2 linked regions of the Homo sapiens genome follow. The protein of the gene in region 2 interacts with the protein of the main gene of each other region in a biochemical or structural test. Each region holds a gene or a part of one and is shown on either strand. Other genes may lie near its edges.

Evidence for each region. Proteins that work in one complex are often made in the same cells at the same time.
Region 1: the proteins of MYL1 (region 2) and TRPV4 interact in a test that uses a peptide from one of them, tested with the Homo sapiens proteins (one large-scale study listed by BioGRID).

The regions. Positions count from the first base shown.
Region 1 is NC_000012.12:109,785,494-109,788,398, reverse strand, and holds part of TRPV4 (transient receptor potential cation channel subfamily V member 4), read left to right. Parts: intron 1-1,502; coding exon of another isoform or gene 1,503-1,523; exon of another isoform or gene 1,524-1,561; coding exon 1,562-1,689; intron 1,690-2,905. UniProt on the Homo sapiens protein: Non-selective calcium permeant cation channel involved in osmotic sensitivity and mechanosensitivity. Activation by exposure to hypotonicity within the physiological range exhibits an outward rectification.
Region 2 is NC_000002.12:210,291,175-210,294,674, forward strand, and holds part of MYL1 (myosin light chain 1/3, skeletal muscle isoform), read right to left. Parts: intron 3,245-3,500; coding exon 3,071-3,244; intron 2,627-3,070; coding exon 2,549-2,626; intron 1-2,548. UniProt on the Homo sapiens protein: Non-regulatory myosin light chain required for proper formation and/or maintenance of myofibers, and thus appropriate muscle function.

The DNA.
Region 1 (2,905 bases), on a different chromosome or scaffold from region 2:
TGAGGCCCCAGGGCCCCCAGCCCCACTCTACCAGCCACCCTCGTCCTTCCGAGGAGACCCACCCGACTGGCTTCCTCGGCCTTCCACTCTGAGCAAGCAGTGTCTTCTCATTCTCCCTCCACTTCTCTGTCGGTAAAATGGGCATCAGAGGCTGCTGCTGACTTCCCAGAGCTGCCTAGTGAATTTTGAGGTGGCTTCTTGCCTGGCTGCCAGCAGTGGGCTCAGATTCTCCTTGTGGTCCAGCTCACAGGACACAGTCGGCTCCACCTAGCATGACTGAGTGACTTCTGCCGGCTCAGAAAGTGCTCCGTGGGCATCAGCGTTTCAGCAGGGGTCCCACGCTGAGCCCAGGGGCAGCTTTTGTGCTCTAGCACTCCAGCACAGGGATGTCAGCATTCTCATGGGGGTCTTTTTCTAGCAACTGTGAGCATGCTTCCTAGAGGAGAAACCAATGGGGACAGGGGCCGCCTTGGCCCGGGGAGCTGCAGAAAGTTTTTACTTACCAAAAGCTTTCTATGCAATCCTGGAAAGAACAGGCCCTGGGATCACAGCCCTCCCAGGCCAGGTGCAGCCTACAAACCTGGTGTCCTAATAAACAGTGCTGCCCCACGGCCCAGGAATACAGCACCCGTGTTTACCTTGACTGTGCATTTCAGGAAAATGGTGCAGTGAGAAAAAAGGGCCCAAGGTTGTCCTCCCAGGACTGGGTCTGAGGGAAACAGCTCTGGCCTGCTCTTAACCTTTATCTATATTGCTTACTTCATTGGGCCTCAGTTTCCCCACTGGGCATTACTCACAGGATGCAAACTGGGCATCCTGTGGGCTGGAGTGCAATGGTGTGATCTTGGCTCACTGCAACCTCTGCCTCCCAGGCTCAAGTGATTCTCTGTCCTCAGCCTCCCGAGTAGCTGGGGCTAAGGTGTGCACCACCTCACCCGGCTAATTTTTGTATTTTTTGTAAAGATGGGGTTTCACCATGTTGCCCAGGCTGGTCTTGAACTTCTGAGTTCAAGCTATCCACCTGCCTTGGCCTCCTAAAGTGCTGAGATTGCAGGTGTGAGCCACTGCACCCAGCATCAGACCATTATATTAAAAACAACAACAACAACAAAAAACTGCAAAATTTAAAAATTAAGAGATTCCCTATGAAAACCCAGATTTCTGGCTTTTCTTGAAAAGTTGGAAGCTCCAGGCAGTGCAGGGTCCGGATTCCTGCCTGGCAGCCCTCAGGTGGGGTGAGTGGCAGCTGCCCCCTTACACGTGGGCATTTGCTCCCTGTTCTCCCCAGTCTCTACCCCTCCCTCACTGAGAGGCAACTGCTGTGTAAGTGTGATAGGGCTTGGGCGGCAGCCTTTCTGCACCTGATCCTGTTTCACCCATTTGTTTTCCTGCCTGCCACCTGTGGGTATTTGAGTTTATAAACCCTGTGTCTAGTGGGGAGTAGGAGTCTAAATGCCTAGTTCTGGGCCCACCCTGGCCCGTTGTCTCATTTCTGCCACCAGAGCGGCAGGCGCAGGCTGTGAGGCTCACCGATGTCCCTCCTGACCCTCCCTCCCCGCAGTGGGCCACCACCATCCTGGACATTGAGCGCTCCTTCCCCGTATTCCTGAGGAAGGCCTTCCGCTCTGGGGAGATGGTCACCGTGGGCAAGAGCTCGGACGGCACTCCTGACCGCAGGTGGTGCTTCAGGTGAGGCTGGGGCAGTGGGGCCAGGATGGCAGGGCGGAACTGTCCCCACTGGCTCGGGGCCCCTGCTGCTCCAGCGTCGTCTACCCATTGCAATTTCTGGAGCCACTGAGGCCCCAAGAGGCCCGAGCAGAGTTCATTTCCACCAGGCGATCTCAGGCAAGTCAGCCCACCTCTCTCAGCCTCAGTTTCTTCATCTGTGGAATGAGACAATGATCTCACGGGCTCCTAGGCTGGCGGTGCGGATTAGACAGGTCAGCACGTGAGAAGTGCTCAGCCAGTGCCCGACGCGCATCGGGACGCCACAGGCTCCCCTGTTCTTGCTCAGGGGGAAGCAGAGACTTGGATGGTGGGTTCATTTTAGAGCATCACCCTGTATCTACCAAACAGTGGGGTGAGCTCTAGTGCCCTCGGTGAAATGGGAAGCTGAGGAATGTGCAGTTTCCAGGGCTGGAGACCTCACCCAGCCCATCTGCAGAATGACTCCGTGTTCCAGAGGCACAGGGAGTGCCAGCTTCTTAGGGGAACCCCTTCATGAATCTTTTCTTTCCAGTTGATTCATTCATTGTAAAGTGGTTGTCAGCATGGAGCATAAGCAGAATGTTTGGAGTCAGACAAAGTCAGTTTCTTCATCTGTGAAATGGGAACAATAATAGAACCCACCTCCTAGGCCATCCGATCAGTTCAATTCCATTTTTTGTTTGTTTTTAGAGGCAGGGTTGCTCAGGCTGGAGTGCAGTGGTGTGATCATAGCTGACTGCAGCCTCCAACTCCTGGTCTCAAGCGATCCTCCCACCTCAGCCTCCTCATGCCACCATGTCCGACCAATTTTTAATTTTTTTGTAGAGATGGGGTTCTTGCTATGTTGCCCAGGCTGGTCTCAAACTCCTGGTCTCAAGCGATCTTCCCACCTCAGCCTCCCAAAATGCTGGGATTACAGGCGTGAGCCACCACACCCAGCCTCTGTTCAGTTTGAATCCAAAGCTCAAATCTTGGCTGGGTGTGGTGGCTCGTGCTTGTAATCCCAGCACTTTGGGAGGCCAAGGTGGGTGGATCACCTGAGGTCAGGAGTTTGAGACCACCCTGGGCAACATGGTGAAACCCTGTCTCCACTAAAAATACAAAAATTAGTCGGGAGTGGTGGCATGCACCTGTAATCCCAGCTACTCGGGAGGCTGAGGCAGGAGAATCGCTTGAACCTGGTAGGTGGAGGTTGCAG
Region 2 (3,500 bases):
TGTAACAATAGTTTCTTTTCTTTTGTATTTAAGGTGTGTATAGCTCATAATTCTTAGTAGTGGATTTATGACCTTTGCCCTGATTTTGCAAATTAATTTTTTGAATAAGTGGTACATTCACATACATTTTTATTTTTAACATAGGGTCTCATTGTGTTGTCAAGGCTTGACTCAAACTCCTGGGCTCAAGCAATCCTCCTGCTTTAGCCTCCCAAGCAGCTGGGACTACGGGCACATGTCACTGTGCCCAGCTATGGTTAAAATATTTTCTTTAACGTATGAAAGGGTATATAACAACAAAATGTTTCCCATCACTGTCTGCTAGGCAACTGGTTCCCCTTTTTACTGCTAAATTGACAGAGCTGTTTATGCATATACAAGACCACATAAATATGTTTCTAAAAATCTTTTTACACAAAAAATGGCATACTCTATACATTGTTTTGTATTCCTTTTTTCAATTAATAATTTATCTTACAGATATTATAACTGTACACAAGAGTGTCCCTATTTTTTAGGGCTGCAGAGAATTTCACATTGATACATTGATAGACATTCGATTGTTTTCACATTGATACATTGATGAAATTATACTTTGATGGACATTAAATTGTTAAAAAAATTTGGCAGTTATGAACAGCACAGTAATGAATAACCATCTATATATGGTCATCTCATTTGAGTGAAAGTATATCTAGAGACTAAGTCTCTCCAGAAGTAGATTTGCTGCAATTAGTAGTACCACACCATAACCTAGGGGTTTTAACAACATGCATTCCCATCAGTGATACATGAAATTGCCTGTTTCCACACCCTCTCCTCAGCCCAAAGTGTGCCCAAACATTTAATCTTTGGCAATCAGCTTATTGAAAAATGATATCTCAGTGTAGTTTTATATTATTATTATTATTTGAGATGGAGTCTTGCTCTGCCACCCAGGCTGGAGTGCAGTAACGCGATCTTCACTCACTGCAAACTCCACCTCCCGGGTTCAAGCGATTCTCGTGCCTCAGCCTTCTGAGTAGCTGGGACTACAGGCTACTGTGTGCCATCACGCCCAGCTAATTTTTGTATTTTTAGTAGAGACAGGGTTTCACCATGCTGGCCAGTCTGGTCTGGAACTCCTGACTTCAAGTGATCTACCTACCTGGGCCTCCCAAACTGCTGGATTTACAGGCGTGAGCCACCACGCCCAGCTGTCAGTGTAGTTTTAATTTGCTTTTTAAAAATTATTAATGTAGTTTGTCATCTTATTTTATTCATTTTATTTCCTATGAATTGTCTGTTCATGTACTTGCTAATTTTCTATTGGATATGATCTTTTATTAATTTGTAGTAGTTCTTTTTTATTAGGAAAATTAGCTCTTTCTGGTATTAATTGAATTTTTTTTTTTTCTGGTTTGCTGTCTTTTGACTTTGCTTTGGTGGCTTTTGCCATATAGATTTTTTAAAGTATGTGATTAAATTTGTCAAGATTTTCAATGCCGTCTGGTTTTTGTGTCACTGTTAGAAAAAACGTAACCACTCCAAAGTTATAAAATTAATTCTTCTGTGATTTTTGTGCTCTTTATGTTTTTAGCTTTTACATTTCACATGTAAATTATTTGAAATTTGTCTTGGCATAAAATTCAGATTTGACTTTATTTTCTAGATGACTGTCCACTTGTTCAAACAGTATTTATTGAATGATTCTCTATGGAGTGTATTTACGGTAATAGCCAAATGTGAAGAATTGTCGACGGGGAAAAAAGTGAAGTTTAATCAAGATTGTCAGTGAAGATATGCTTGGCTAAGCCCTTTCTTTTTGTCCTCTTCTCCCTCCTTTCCTTTCTTCTCCTTTCTTCCCCTCTCATTCTCTTCTCTTCTTTGTTTTTCTCTTTTTGTCTTTATTTATATGTAACTTGATTCATTCTCTTTGGGGATAGAAACATTTTTAAATTTTCTTACAAATTAAAAAATTTTTAAATTTGTAAATTATATTATGCATCTTTGTTTTCTGTAGTGCATTGCTTTCACACCCTCTGGGTGAAGCTGCTGTAAATTGGTAGTAGGAATTAAACAATTGGCAACTGTGGGCTGACTTTCATGTAAGCAAGAACACTAGACAAGGAAAAGAAGTAAATTTTACCACCAGCCTGGCCATTAGTGATTTGACCTTCACCAAGTAACTAAACCTATTTGGCCCGAAGTTTCATTTTCATAATTGCTTCATATTAGTAAATGACTTTGAGATTTCTTCAAGTTTAATATTCTATTAAATTTGATTCTGACATCAGCCCTGTCTAACTCATAGGGATGTTCTGAAGATCTAACAAAAAATATATGTGAAAACACATTTTTAGCTTTAAAACAATGCACAGTATTGCTAAAACACACTGGAATAAATGTTATTTATATGTTCAGATCCTCACATATCTTTTTAGAGTTATGCAATTGATTGTCATATGTATGTCAATAAGGAAGGAAGAGGAAAAGAAGCTCAAAAGGAGCCCATCATCAATCTGATCAGTTAAGAGTTGCTGTAACCACCAGTGAGCATTGATTCTACCTTCGTAGTTGATGCAGCCATTGGAGTCTTCTTGACCTGCCATCAGGGCTTCCACTTCTTCCTCTTTCATCTTTTCACCTGATGAAACAAAACTCTCCTTTCAGAAAGAAGGCCATGTGTTATTTTCAAAATCCACCATAGGTCATCAGTCAAGGGCTCTGGAGACTAAACTCTTGACATATAGGAACTGTGACTTTCCCATTCTTTTGGTACTTAATATATTGTCAACTAATTGGTTTTTGAATGAGTTAATTAAATACACATTATCTGTTGTCATACAAAGTGTCCTGTAAGAACTACCATGCTTTCCTTTACTTATTCATTACCAATATTTTAAGTTAACATTTTCACCAAACTCACTGCCACTGAGGCCAATTGAAATGGTCATTAACTTTTGACTATTTTTTTTTCCCATTTTCCCTTTGTAGTCTTTCCTCCTATTTTGGTAGTGACATGATTCTCCTGTCATGTTCTTTTCTATATATTCTGTCTCACTAAGTCCACTGAAATAAATTCCCTTACCCAGGGTGGCTAGAACATGGCGGAGTTCAGCACCCATGACTGTGCCATTGCCTTCCTTGTCAAAGACACGCAGACCCTCAACAAAGTCTTCATAGGTGGCCTGGTCCTTGTTGTTGGAAATGGCTTGCATCATAGGCAGAAATTGTTCAAACTCAATTTTCTTGGCATTCAGCTCTGTAAGAAATTGCAATTTTGAGGGTTATTAGCTACCATAATACTAACTCTGAGTCACAATTTAAACTTGAAAAGTTATTCTAGGTTATCTGAAAAACCTTCACACAGCTTAAATTTCAGCTGGTAAATTGCTAAAATATCAAGAATATGGTAATAGTTAATGGCATGAGGTCTGGAATTGCAGTTCCTGAGCTTTTATTCCCAGTCTACCATTTGCAACTCTGACAGTGCTCTAGTTAACCTTTTTGTGCCTCAA